Homo sapiens: one gene and its partners. The protein of the gene in region 4 interacts with the protein of the main gene of each other region in a pairwise test. Each region holds a gene or a part of one and is shown on either strand. Other genes may lie near its edges.

Region 1 (3,500 bases), on a different chromosome or scaffold from region 4:
GAGGTCAGGAGATCGAGACCATCCTGGCCAACATGGTGAAACCACGTCTCTACTAAAAATACAAATATTAACCAGGCGTGGTGGTGTGCACCTGTAGTCCCAGCTCATTGGGAGGCTGAGGCAGGAGAATCGCTTGAACCCAGGAGGTGGAGGTTGCAGTGAGCCAAGATTGTGTCACTGCACTCCAGCCTGGGCGACAGAGCGAGACTCCATCTCAGAAAAAAAACCTCATTTTCCCTGCTCTGTGAATGACCGGGAGAGACTGGACACCAGAACTCCCACTTCCAATCACTAGACTTTGTTACCGATTAACTGCCTCTTTATTGTCCCATACCTAATTCAGAGCAGATGGCACCCAGGACCCCATGACAGTTGCATCTTCAGTGTGGAATGATAAATATACTTGTCCAGAGAGAAAAGGACCCCTTAGCGAGTCAGATCCTTGTAATGTGCAGGCAGCCTTCCATAGAAGGATGCTGAAATTCTGCTAAACTTCCCAAAGCTTTGTCTAGATAAACAATCTCAAACTTCTACACTTTGGAACATGGACTTTCATTCTCTGGATCTCTGATTACTGGGTGGCCTGTACTTCTCCTCAACTTCGTGCTTGGAGAAACTCTAAACCTGATTCTGACTCTTTTGGTTATTTTAGCTTGATACTCTTCCATCACCAACTTTAGTGGGACTGCTTTCCCTACACCAGAAACGGTCACTCTAACAGGTCACAAAGGGCATCTCAGTTTTCATCTGCATTTCTTAATTAGGAAGAAACTGTGTGTCTTTTTGGATGTTAATTATCCATCTTCTTGCCTCATTCTATTAGTATCCTTTGCCCATTTCTCTACTGAAATGTTCTAGTTTCTAGACGATTCTTGAGAACCTTCATCTATTATATTGATGGACACTGGCTTATTTGTCAGAGCTGCTGAAAATAATTCTCCTTCAGGCAATTTGACTTTATCATTCATTTTCCTTGTATGAAAATTTAACTTTTGCTTAATGAAATGCTTTGGGGTTTAGTGTCTTGTTTAGAAAGGCATTCTGCCGCTGAAGTTTAAATATTTTTTAGAAAAAAAAATGGTGTTTTCTTCTAGTATTTTAACATGATTTAATTTTTTAACTTAAAAAGTCTTTATTAAAGTGTAAGTCTACTTTTATAATAATTCAGGAGAGATAGGAAAAGAATGAACTGGGTGTGAAACATTCTCATAAAAAAGGATACAATAGGCCAGGTGCGGTGGTTTACGCCTGTAATCCCAGCACTTTGGGAGGCCGAGGAAGGTGGATCACTTGAGGCCAGGAGTCCAACTACAGCCTGGCCAATATGGTGAAACCCTGTCTGTACTAAAAATACAATAATTAGCCAGGCATGATGGTGCACCTGTAATCCCAGCTACTCTGGAGGCTGAGGCAGGAAGATAATTTGAACCTGGGAGGTGGAGATTGCAGTGAGCCGAGATTGCACCACTGCATTCCAGCCTGTGTGATAGAGTGAGACCCTGTCTCAAAAAAAAAAAAAAAAAAAGATAAAATACACTCGACTGGGCACTCCACTCATGTGACATGAGTTCCAAACATCCTCTATCCATCGGAGTCTTTTGGGCTGTGTCCCGGGCCATTCTCTCTCCTTTCCTCCTAGACGCCTCACCAGTGCCCATGGCTTCAGTTCCAGCCCCAGCGGATTTGCTGATGCCCTCACGTTTCCGCCTACTCTCCTGACCTCTGGGCCTCCATCCACAGCAGCCTCTTCAGAGTCTCGGCTGGGAGTTTCCCACAGGACACTGACACCTACACATCGCCAACTGAGCTCCTGGCCTTCCCCCTCCTGCGAAACCTGCTCCACCCCTGGCCTTGGCCATCTCAGCAAACAGCACTGTGATGCACAGGTGTCACTGAGGAGACAAGGCATCCCCGACACCCTCTTCTCCCTCATTCCACACCTAGTCACCAGATCCCACAGACTCTGTCTCCTGAGGAGCACTGGACCCATCCGCCCCTGCCACCTGCACCCTCACCATCATCCTATTTGCTGGTTCTCTGTGATTGCCCCCACCTGGACTCCCCACAGCAAGTCTGGACTGCACCCCCCACCACCGACCCCCAGGCAGTAAACTCCTGGAAGGCAGGCATATTAACCAAGTCTTCTCATTTAGATGCTTTGACCTCTGGGGCCTTCCTGAGCCTAGAGGACCTTCCCTTCCCTCCCCTCCCCCTCGGATTAGCTAATCCCTGGAGATAGAAAATGACTTGCCCAGAGCACACCTTTCAAATGCAAACCACCCAATCCAGAGCCCACACCCCAGCCACAGCCTCTGTCAGTCTGTCACTCTCAGGACCACTGATCCCTGCCCTATCCCCCCAGAGCCAGGACCAGACAACCAGGGGCAGCCCTGTGCCCCAGAACCCCGAAACTATTCTAACAAATCAGTCCTACACCTGCTCACTCACCTCACCGTTCCTTCCTGTGATTCCACAGTGGAGGCTCCTGCCCACGTCCCCCTTTCCCTCGGGCTTTCTGGCTGACCCTGCAGCTTCCCCCGCACAGCCCTGCGTGGTGCACCCCCTTCTGTCCTAGGGATCTGTGAGTAAGCAGCCATCTCTCCAGTGACAGTCATCTCCTGCTCTGTTGGCCTCACCACACAGCAATAATAAAACCTGTGTTTTAAACCAGCAGGAGCCATGTTTGTCCCATCCCTCACCACCCCCAGGACTGGGTTAGTGATGGTGCCAGACAGTGGCCAGGCCTCCTCAGAGTGGCATCTGCCTGGCCACAGCTGTGGGCGCTTTCTCAGGGTCAGGTGTGGCTGGGGATGCCGCCCTGAAGGAGGTGCCATGCCTACCTTCCTGGAGTCCACATTCTGGACCGGCAACAAGCACATAAAATAAAGAGAAGTGAGAGATATTCCAGTAGCTGGGGCAATCAGGGAGCCCACGGAGGAGGCACCATGGGAGCAGAGCCCCAAGGGGAGTGTGGTGACAGCGTGGGGTCATGGAGGCAAAACCTGCAGGCAGAGCTGAAGAGGAGCCACTGGGGCCAGCATGGCTGGCAGGGTGTGAGCCTGGGGAGCACAGGGATGAGGCCCTTGGGAGCCACAGAAGGACCAGGGTTTGGCAGGGATGTTCCCCACGGAATTGGGCCACGTCTCCTTCCCACTCACAGGTCAGTGTCCTCCCCTGCAGCTGGGCACACCCACACCTCCCTCCATCTCCTCCCCCTCCCACCTGCTGCTCCCTCTCCCGAGACACTCTCTCTGGGCTGCCCATCCCCATTATTCACCATCTCTACTCAAATGTCACCTTCTCCAGGAAGCCTTCCTGATCCCCCTGTCTAAATGCTTCCCACCACAATCACTGAATCAGCCTCCTATTTCAGCACTGCTGGGAACCATCCTGTCTATTTAGTTGTTTACTTCACTTATTTAACACATTTTAAGAACACATTTTTTGATTGCAGTAACATAATACTATATATATATATATATATATATATATATATATAT
Region 2 (3,500 bases), on a different chromosome or scaffold from region 4:
AGTGGGAAAGATACAAAGAGGCAGATTAGCATCAAGGATCAGGGATCCACAGCAAACAGATGAAGCCCCAACAACTCTTTTTGGTGCTGTTTATCACTTGGCTTGCTTCTGGGACTCAGCTCAATTCTTAGGTGAATTTGGTATTTCCCATCTTGGGTAGTTCCCTGAACTTTAATATCAGGGAACCAATTAAACACACCCAGGAGGCCTGAATTTTGTCTTAATGTGTCAGGGCCCAAGTTACTGGCTCTGTGGGCCCTATTTCCTTAGTTGTATGGATTCTACCTCTAGCAGTATCCCTTCTGAGAAGACTAAATTTGAGAAGCAAATAGAAAAATCACAGTATAATGAAGAAACTATGAATACAAAATATAAAAATTACAAGTCAGTCAGGGTTCTCCTTCTGATCCAAGATTAATTGCCTCCAGAGCTTTTTTTTCTTAGACAGTCTTGCTCTTCAACCCAGACTGGAGTGCAGTGGCATTATCTCGGCTCACTGCAACCTCCATCTCCTGGTTTCAAGTGATTCTCCTGCCTTAGCCTCCCGAGTAGTTGGGATTATAGACATGCGCCACCAAGCCCAACTAATTTTTTAAATATTTTTTAGTAGAGACAGGGTTTTGCCATGTTGGCCAGGCTGGTCTTGAACTCCTGGCCTCGAGTCATCCGCCCACCTCAGCCTCCCAAAGTGCTGGGATCACAGGTGTGAGCCACTACGCCCAGCCTTTAATGTTTTTCTTTTTTTTTTTTTTTGAGATGGGGTCTCACTCTGTTGCCCAGGCTGAAATGCAGTGGCACATCTTGGCTCACTGTAACCTCTGCCTCCCAGATTCAAGCGATTCTCCTGGCTCAGCCTCCTGAGTAGCTAGGATTACAGGTGCACTGCCACCATGCCTGGCTACTTTTTGTATTTTTAGTAGAGACGGGGTTTCACCATGTTGGCCAGGCTGGTCTCCAACTCCTGACCTCACGTGATCCACCTGCCTCGGCCTCCCAAAGTGCTGGGATTACAGGCGTGAGCCACCGCGCCCGGCCATGCCTCCAAAGCTTTTGCCAAACAAATAACCAGCACCAATGTTTCAAAGATAAGGGTGGAGATTCTAGTTTCCAAAGGATAAAACCAAAGCACACCACTATGCATAGCTTGTACCCCCATCCACCCACAAGCCAAGATCCCAGCCCCACTCTACTGTCAGATAGTTACATAGAGGTCATGTCATTGAGGGCGTGGTCCAGCTCCTCGCTAATGGCCTTGTACTTCAGTTTCTGGGCATAGAGCTCATCTGGACAGGCACAGGAACCACAGGGAGGAATGAGGGGACAGAGTGAAGAGTTTCAGAAGCAGATGAAGAGAGGGAATCATTAGAAATTAGGAAAGTGTGACTGTGGGTCTAATACCACAGTTAGGAAAATATCTACTCTGGCAACCATGACTGGACATTTTCAGATCTACTCTCTCCTATGACCAACTTCCTTTCTTGATACTCCAAATCGACTGCAGCAAGGGCTGAGAACCTGGGCACAGTCATAACTAGAAATTCCTATTACCAAAAGCACTCAAGAGGATACCACTCCCATCCAGGTACCCAATTCCTAGCAGTGATAACACTTAATTGAACAAAAATAGCAAAGGGAGAGAGTATATATCCATATTCAGACACTTCTCTGCCTACAAAATGTGAACCTATTAGTGGCCCCTCTGCTCCACAGGCTGCCCCTGCAACTCTGCCAAGAGAGTGTACCAAAGGAGCATACATCAGAGTTCTCAAAGCAAAGAGTACGTTCCCTTGTCAGGGTGGATGGCAGTTACCAACTTGCAGGGACAGAAAGTATTTAGAAAGCTCCTGACATTGGTCAATGTTCAGATATGGTTATTCCACAACTTCATTTATTGGATAAATACCCGACAACTTGAGTGGCAAAAAGAACTGTGGAAAGTAGCCATGAAATGACATACATCTTGCCCTTCTGAAATCATGGCTTCCATTTAAACCCACAGACTAAAGGTTTAAGACTAATAAATTGGAGGTAAATGCAGCCATTATCATTCTCCTCAAAAGGGAAGGGTACAAATTGCAGACTATTTGGTAAAGTCTTCTTAAAGGAAAAGATTAAATTTAAAAAACCAATTCTAGAGTTTGACCCACTTTGCCTAGCTGTGGCATAGGACAGTGCACATGATATTAATACATGCCAAGTCACTACCAACTTCCTTTGGTGTACAGAAAAAGAGATTAATGGTTAATGGGCAGTCTTCCTCTATATTTCTCTATTTCAATCCCTACTCCAGGTTCCATACCTTCCAGGTCATCAATTGTCTTTTCCAGCTTGGCTACCGATCTCTCAGCAAACTCAGCACGGGTCTCTGCCTGGGGGAAATATGAAATTAGTCAGAACCAGAGATGAAGACAAAGAAGAACAATCTCTATTTCTTCCACCTTCTACTTCTGGACCTTTCAGAACCCAAACCAGCCAGTTTAAATCCATATTAATGCCTTATATACCTCTAAATGTTTTGGGTTCTGCCCTATAAATCCCCTCAGCTCACCTCCTTGAGTTTATCAGTAAGAATCTTGATTTCTTCCTCATATTTATCTTCTTTTTGAGAGTACTGTAAGATAAGTAGATTAAAAATTTCAGAGTAGAAATTAGTCACACAGGCAATACCCCCCTCCCTACATTTAACTTACATTGAATATCCTCTTGCACTAAATGTGCTGAATGGTCCAAGAGTAAGAGCAAGGCCTGGCTCTGGACAATAGGTCCTTGAAATTCAGAAATCTATGTCTTTAGAGCCATGAGATCCTCAGGTTAAAATTCTCCATGACTTTTTAAGATGGATCTAAGCTTTGATATTATTCAGATCAACCCAAGGAGGTGTTTTTCCTTTCCCCTGCTTGATGAGCAAGAGTAGTAGCACCCCAAGGTCACATGACTGAAACACACCCACATGATGGCAAAGTGAAGTCATCTGTCTTGATTGCTCATTAGGTCTCAGAGCTGATTCTGTCTGTTGCCCCCATCTGTCTGCTAGAAAGCCTGTTAGGGCCCTTGATTATTGCTTTTCAGCACAGCAGTATCAGCCTAAGGAGCACATGACTCCAGTAACCTGAGACCAAGAAGTTATTTTAATTAAAGCAATCAAAGTGCACAGAAAATAGCATTAAACCCAGAACCTGAATACATGGTAAGGAGGTAGGAAGAGGACACGCCTCACTGGATTATATATGGAATGCGTGTCTCCAGTCTTTCATCAAGGGCAGGGCTGGGCCCAGGCCCCAAAGCCTGTCACTTTCACAAACCAGCCCCTACCTTCTCCGCCTGAGCCTCAAGAGACTTGAGGTTGTTGGTGACATTCTTCAGCTCCTCCTCCAGCTCAGAACACTTACTGTGAATATTTTAAATACCACAGGAGAGGAAAAGGGAAAAGGAAGAGAATAAAAAAAGGGAGAGAGACACATAGACGTGAATTGAACCTATATGTAGAGAGAGTTGGAAGG
Region 3 (4,031 bases), on a different chromosome or scaffold from region 4:
GCAAGTCAACAGAGTTATTCCTGTCTTTGTATACAGATTATGTTGTATTATTCCTAGTTAACTGTTTCATCTAGGAAACTCAGTTTTAGTTCCCTATAATGCAACAAACTCTAAACCTCAGCTTTAAGGTAAAGTATTTGCCCAGTGTAATTAGCTTTAATTACTACTCTTCACTTTGGCTTTAAGTATGTTTCCTCATCATTTCTGGCACCTGAAAACTTCTCTTTTTTTTTTTTTTTTGAGACGGAGTCTCTCTCTGTCGCCCAGGCTGGAGTGCAGTGGCACCATCTCGGCTCACTGCAAGCTCCGCCTTCCGGGTTCACGCCATTCTCCTGCCTCAGCCTCCAGAGTAGCTGGGACTACAGGCGCCCGCCACCACACCCGACTAACTTTTTATATTTTTAGTAGAGATGGGGTTTCACCGTGTGAGCCAGGAGAAAACTTCGCTTTTTTACTCTAAAATTTAGTGATGTTGTTTTAAAATTTGTCTTTTTTAAACTTACGATTACATCAAATTCTGTATGTTTAGAGAAAGAGGGAGTAACTTCTGTATCTGTGCATTTTGACTGAAAGTCACAGTTGCTTATCTTTATAGAATTAACATAATTGAGAATGTTTCCCTAAATCCTTGTTCATCTGTGTAGAAATTGACTTGATAGGTACTCAAATATGTTTATATGCTGTATATAAATTACATTTTCTAGTAGTTGCATACTCATAACTATATGTATAACTATCCAATTTATTGATCTTATATCTTCATGAATTAGAATGTTAGGCAAAATGAGACAAATAAGCATGTTAGAATTTAAAACATGCAAGGACAGGATTCATATAAGCATAAAATATGAAGCTCATAGTTGTGAAATCATTTAATTGCTTAGACTAGGTGAAATTGATGAAATTACTATTTTATGCAGTCTGTTATGTACCTTAAATTTATTATGTTGGAAGAGTTATATACAAATATGAATCATCTTTTATTATGTTTAACTTGCAGCATTGCTATACAGTTTTGAATTTTACTAGCAAGAACTGTATCTGTGAGCTTAAACATGATATTTAAAAAAGAAAGAACACTAACTCGTATGTATGATAATCAACTTGGACAACTTGTTCTGGGAAATAGAAAAGTAAACTGGTGCGACTCAAATAAAAGGTTCTCTGCCCTATTACAGACACTGAAAATCCCTAGAAACAGAAACATGAGTAAAAATTACCTTGTACTTTTAGAAATATGCCCTGGGATAGATACTTAGTGTATTTATAGATTTTTTTAAAGTAGGCCATTTCTTTTCATAGTTACTGTAATGATTAAATAAAACATTTCAAGAAATATGACCAGTTTTTACCCAAGAGAAAACAGAATATTCTGTTGCTTTTGTATATGAAGTCAACTTGCCACATTTTTCTAGTGCAAGTGAAAGCAGAGGATCTTATTGTAATATATTAACCTCTTTGGCTACTAAAGTGAGGGCCAAATAGTAGTTTCTAAAAACTAAAAAAAAATTGCAAATTGCATATATTGTCTAATTTTGAAGTATCTGACTTTTTTTGCAATGTAAACTTTCAATGCTTTTTTCTACATTTTATTTAGTCTAAATAACTTATTGAATTAACTTGTATAACAACATTAAGATCATTTTTGTTTAAATATGATGTATAATTTTTGAACTTTTATCTGATTCAAGTAAGCTGTACATACATAAAATGATTTTTATATTACATTTAAAACTGCATAGCTGTGAAGATAATGTGTTCGAGGTATTACGTGGCCAATTCTCAAGTCCACCTTTAAAATACATATAAAAGTCATTATTATTTTGATTTGAAATGGAATATTTATTAAATTCTAACATAGTAACAATTATAACTTTGAAAGTATCTAACCTATCTACATATGTTGTATTTAAATGATGCTGATTTAAATTTTTCAAACTATCAATTAAATGCTAACACTTACGTTAAATGGTATAACAAGTATTTTTAATGTACTAGTTGAAATATTATAAAGGTTAGTGAGTACTTCGATATTTTCTGGTAGCCCTTTCACAAGATTATTTTCTCATTTTTTCAATTTTAGAAGATTCTAGTAAACAACAATGAAGCAATTAAGACCATTATAGCAAATTATTTCAGATTTTTAAGGTTATACGTATGTGTCAAATTTGGGTATAAGCTGCTTTTCAGAGTGAAATATAAAAATGTTCTCTAAAGTAAGCACATTCATAGTCTGTCTATAAAAGAAATAATTTTAGATCTGTTTTTACATCTGACTTTCTAGTATTTTTTAAATGAGAGCTTACTTTTTAAAAGACTTAAAAATTTTTTCTTTCCTCTAAAGTTGATTTTTATTATCGTAGTCTATTTTCAAGAGCTTTATACCCAGATCCCAGTCAGCATGTCAGTAATATATGTGAACAAATCAGCTACTGGTACCCCGGTCCAAATCTGAGCAAAACAAGTAACCCTCATTATTTGTTGAGTGATTTTTAAATGTAACAGTGTAACCAGATGTCAGTCTATGGATACCTCATATTAAAAAGTACAGAAAAGAGTCATTATTTACCTTTCTGTTTTCTTCCTTTTGTTGGTTTTCCACCTGCGGTGTTGGAGTCCTGCCTTTGAGAGAATATCTGAATATCATCTCATGTTTTGAACAAATTATCTAAATCTCTGTCTTATAGGGCACAGACTAATTTCTGTATAGTTTTCATGTTGTTAATTTGAAAGCCAAATAATGAAGTCAAATAAGAGATAAAGTTGTACGTTTGCTGTTAATAGCAAGTGAAAATAGATTGCTTACTTCACACCTGGAGAATCTGGTTCTGCCTGTTAGACGCCTATTCTTTAGATTAAAGGAAGATCATTTTCATTGGAGCTAGTCGGTAACAGGAAGTCCTCGTTAAACTGCCTACGTAGAGTATTTGGCACTGGATCTGCAAATTTAGTCCTACATTGTATATGTAATATATTATTCCAAGAAAATGGGTTTGTATTTAAACAAAGGTTACTTTCTTTTCTATAGATATCAAAACTTACTAAAAATATGGAATTAAATAGGAATGAAAAGAAGCTTGGTGTAAAAGCTTTTTTTGTTCCATTTACTTTAAAATGGTTGAAATCTGTCCTATTTTAGGAAATCCCAAAAGAGCTTAGCTCACAAAATCATAGAATTTCAGAAGGAGAACATCCAGGAAAGAGCTCATGTCTGTAAACCATTCATCCCACGTTACTTTTAATTTTTTTTACTTTTTATTATGCCTGCTGTTTTTATTTTAAAATAAATTTTATATAGAACTAAAGTTATCCAGCAATATATGTTAAATCATTTATTTTGTCAATATAACAACTCAAAATTAATTTATACCAGAGGGAAATGTTTATAGGAAGAATTAAAAATGAAAATTTCTCTTGTACTACCAAATTTCAGACCCATTTTTTCTACCTGACTTGTTACTATTTGAGGGCAAGAAGAAGGAAATTGCTGTATCTATCAAAATCATATATATATATATATATATATATATATATATATTTATTTTTTTTTTATTTTTTTTTTTTTTTGAGAAGGAGTCTTGCTCTTGTAGCCCAGGCTGGAGTGCAGTGGCACGATCTTGGCTCACTGCAACCTCCGTCTCCCGGGTTCAAGCAATTCTGCTGCCTGAGCCCCATAAGTAGCTGGGATTACAGTTGCCTGCCACCACGCCCAGCTAATTTTTTTGTAGAAATGGGGTTTCACCATGTTTGCCAGGCTGGTCTCGAACTCCTGACCTCAGGTGATCCACCTGCCTCAGCCTCCCAAAGTTCTGGGATTACAGATGTGAACCACCATGCCCGGCCAATCACATTTATATTTATTCTTTGTTTTAACAGTTCTACTTCCTGGAATCTGTACTCAAAATAAGAAATGACTCCTTTACACACCTACTTTTTATAGCACTCTTTGTAAAAACAAAACACTGGAAACACAAAAGTCCTTCAGCGTAGAACTGGCTGAATAAATGATGGAACATTCAAAGGGGAGCATT
Region 4 (3,500 bases):
CCTCCACACGCACCTCTGCCGCTTCTGCTGCTGTTGTTGGCACTTCTGCTGCAGCTGCTGGTGGCGCTGGGCAGCAGCTGCTAGGAGCTCCTCAGCCTTCCTGTGCTCTTCCTGAAACAGCTGCCTGGGGGGCCCAGTAGGGGGTGGTCAGCACCGGCCACTCCCTCCTCCCACCCTCTTCCCCTCCACATCTTACACTGTGGCTGCAGCCTCCTGGCTGCGGAGAAAGAGTCCCTCATCAAGGGTGGAGGGGCCCTCAGCCCCACACAGGGAGCACAGCTGATGCTTCACGTCTTCCAGTGTCGCCTTGACCAGCTTCTCTGCAGCACAAAGGGGCAGGTGAGCACATGAAGGCACGTGAGGTCAGATATGGGCCATCCACCTTCCCTGGTCTCACCTTCCTTGAGCAGCTGCTCCTTGCTGCTGTCCAGGGCACAAATCTCCTTTGCCAGCCGCTCTGGCATCTGAGGGGCAGAAAAGAGGCCTGTCCACTCCTCTTGGCTTTCCCCCATGCCTCAAAGAAGGCTATCTGGATCTTGTTTCATACTTACTCACTATGCCTCACTTCCAACAACTCTGCCCCTCTGTGCACACCAGCTACAGTACAGCCTCAGGGCCATGGCACTGGCCATTCCCTCCCTGTGCACTTCTGTCATCCCACATCTCTGCGGTACTGCAGTGGGGATGCTCATGGATTGTTATTTACAACAGATAAACCTGCAAGCACTGTGAGTCTTGGCTGTTTTCTGGAGGATCAGGTACCGGTTTAGCTCTGCAGCTCCTCCCCACTCCCCTCTGTCCTGGTGTGACCTCCTCACTGAGCCCTTCCTTCCTGACACTCACTGTCTATTTTCTTGTTCAGTGCCTAGGATCCTCCTGGGGGACAAACACGGGCTGCTTATCCTCGTTGTCTCCTTTGTGCCCGTGATGGTCCCAGACACATCCACGGACAGTGATGGAAGACTTGACCTTGGTCTCATCAGAGATCCCCCTGACCACTGAGCAGCAGGGTCACAAGGAGGTGACAAGGGACTGGATTCAGGCAATGTCGATCTTAGCACCACCAGGGCTTGCTTGGCGACTGGTTGTGGCAGGTGAGAGGAAGAAGTGACCGTTTGGGCCTGGTGCTGCTAGGGAAGATGTGGAAGGGGGAGGAGTGGCTTTGAGGGACTCACGTGGAAGTCCCAGAGGTCCTTGTGCTGGCCCATCAGATCTTCCAGCTGTTCCTCGAATGCCAACCTGGGAACCAACCACAGGCATGAGGGGATATGGGCTGAAATCACCACCTTCACAGCCTGTCCAAGTCTGTGGTTCTTCAGGCAGATTTTGGGGTGCTTTGCCCATGGTCTCTGCTCCACTGGGAACATCTTCACCACCTTGAATCTCCATGGCTCAGTGTAGCCAGCTTTTCTAACCCCCATCTTTGACATTATATCCCAACTACTGGCCATCCAAACCCCCTGCCTCAGATGCTAAGGTTTACCTCAGCTGTCTCTGTTTGTTCTTCTCTTCTTCAATCTGCAAGTTCAGGGCAGAAATTCTCTCCTTGCACTCCTGCAACATGGTGTGCTTCCTGGGAGAGGCGAGGCAGCCCTCAGCCATGTTCTCTTAAGCCCCAGGAGGGCACTGGGCTGGGGCTTCTGCCTCCCTCTATTGAGGCTATTTTTTCCCTCTACATTAAGGTCCTTCTCTGTAACATGTGGTAAGTAGGGAGTGACATGACCATTTGCCCCCTGGAAGTATTGTTGTCAGGTTAAGAGAGATTAATGTGGACATGGTTAAGTGAGCAAATGCACACACATCTTAGTATCATCTCGTTTTCCCAAAGAGCTGAAATCTCAGTGTGCCAGGGCCTGGGGCCTCTGGTAACAAATGAGCTAAATCAGGAGGTGGAGAAATGGATGGACAAATCGATGGGTGGATGAAAAGATAATGGATGAATGGAGAGAGAATGGACAAATGGTTGGCTCAATGCCTAAATGAACAGACAGATGAGTGAATAGACATCCAAGGAGTATGACAAAGAGTAAAAGGCAAAAAATAAAAACCAGCTGAAGAAATTTAATTGACAATTTAGCAAATGAATGTCTTGCCATTGAGAGAGTTTCCCTTAACACTACTGCCAGCTGTTGGAGCCGAAGGGGAAAGACATTCTTTGGACTCTCCATTGTTTAGAGGGAAACAATGAGAGCTGTGGGTCTCAGATTCATCTTCCTGCCTCTTTCTGCTCTACCAGAATAAAGAGGTAGTGCAGAGTTAGGCTCAGCTGGAAGCTCTTACCTGTGTGCCTCACTTTCCTTTTCCTGGCAATGCAGCCGGAGGATCCTCAGGGTCTCTGTAGGGAGAGCAACAGGGCCCTATGAGAACCTGTCAAGGTATTGGGTTTTGGCAGGGGGAACACAGCCAGATCATGTCAGGTCTGTGGACACCTGATTGAGCTTTAACATTTACTACATGTCTGGTGGAAGCCACAGGAGAGAGGCAAGCTGGGACAGGTTTCAAAAGGCTTCAGCTGCCATAGGGAGAGTGGGCTTCTGTGGGTTGGCAAAGGCACAAGCCTGGAGACAGGGGAGCGGCAAATACCTTGTTTTTTGCTCAAGATCTCCTTCAGGTGTACTTTCTCTCCATGCACTAGAAAACAGTGACACATTTTGGCATCAGGGACTATGCACTGCACCCTCAGGGATGGGGCTTGCTCACGGTCACATGGGAAGCTGGGCACAGCCTTGGCCCCAACCCAAATGTGAACCCTTGAGGTGAGCCCCTCCCTACCCTCTGGTGCCCACATTCCTTGTAAGCACCAAAGGGCCTTCACATTTACAGAGGGTGGCTGTGAGGGCCCTGGAGGATGCTCGTGCTTTTACATGGGGAGGAGAGAAAAAATACCAACACCCACGAAGTGGGATAAGGGCTATAAAGAAACACATCAAATAGGATGGGGCATGTGACCAGATGGAGGCAGGGTGCCATCTTTAAATGGGATGATTGGGGAATGCCAGTCATCCTGTCTGGGGACATTCTAACTTAGAGCTGATGATGTGAGGAAAGAGGAACCTGTATTATCTGAGGAAGCACAGACAGCGTCTGGCAAAAGCCCTGAGGTGGGAATGAGGTTGGAGGGTGTTTCCTGAACACTCCCACAAGCAGAGAGGAGAGGGGGAGATTGGCAGGACATGAGGCTAGAGAGGGTACAGGACCCTTGGCCATGGCAAGGATGCTGATTATCTGGAATACAGGGTTAGGGGAGGCTTAAGACACTGTGGGGACCTCTGGGTGACCCCCGGCTCTCTTACGCGAGTCCAGTTCCTTCTGCAGGGCCTCACAGATGGTCCGGGCCTCTCCTAGGTCTTTATTGGCTTTCTTTTTTGCTTCACCAAAGAGCAGAAAAACATTGTGTGAGTGCAGCCTCTATTCTCTTCCCAACAGTGACATTTCTCATTTGCCTTCAGGTAAATCTATAGTGGCCTAGATTTTATAGAGTAGGAAACGAGGCTTCCAGC

Evidence for each region. The genes of interacting proteins can lie anywhere in the genome.
Region 1: the proteins of SYCE1 (region 4) and CFAP100 interact in binary tests that used the Homo sapiens proteins (3 or more experiments, as listed by UniProt).
Region 2: the proteins of SYCE1 (region 4) and TPM3 interact in binary tests that used the Homo sapiens proteins (3 or more experiments, as listed by UniProt).
Region 3: the proteins of SYCE1 (region 4) and STX19 interact in binary tests that used the Homo sapiens proteins (3 or more experiments, as listed by UniProt).

The regions. Positions count from the first base shown.
Region 1 is NC_000003.12:126,401,409-126,404,908, reverse strand, and holds part of CFAP100 (cilia- and flagella-associated protein 100), read right to left. Parts: intron 1-3,500. UniProt on the Homo sapiens protein: May play a role in ciliary/flagellar motility by regulating the assembly and the activity of axonemal inner dynein arm.
Region 2 is NC_000001.11:154,168,101-154,171,600, forward strand, and holds part of TPM3 (tropomyosin alpha-3 chain), read right to left. Parts: intron 3,389-3,500; coding exon 3,313-3,388; intron 2,612-3,312; coding exon 2,549-2,611; intron 2,370-2,548; coding exon 2,300-2,369; intron 1,284-2,299; coding exon 1,205-1,283; intron 1-1,204. UniProt on the Homo sapiens protein: Binds to actin filaments in muscle and non-muscle cells. Plays a central role, in association with the troponin complex, in the calcium dependent regulation of vertebrate striated muscle contraction.
Region 3 is NC_000003.12:94,025,798-94,029,828, forward strand, and holds the start of STX19 (syntaxin-19), read right to left. Parts: upstream 2,801-4,031; 5' UTR 2,570-2,800; intron 1-2,569. UniProt on the Homo sapiens protein: Plays a role in endosomal trafficking of the epidermal growth factor receptor (EGFR).
Region 4 is NC_000010.11:133,555,584-133,559,083, forward strand, and holds part of SYCE1 (synaptonemal complex central element protein 1), read right to left. Parts: intron 3,369-3,500; coding exon 3,294-3,368; intron 2,632-3,293; coding exon 2,584-2,631; intron 2,336-2,583; coding exon 2,281-2,335; intron 1,574-2,280; coding exon 1,484-1,573; intron 1,240-1,483; coding exon 1,176-1,239; intron 465-1,175; coding exon 398-464; intron 321-397; coding exon 197-320; intron 125-196; coding exon 14-124; intron 1-13. UniProt on the Homo sapiens protein: Major component of the transverse central element of synaptonemal complexes (SCS), formed between homologous chromosomes during meiotic prophase. Requires SYCP1 in order to be incorporated into the central element.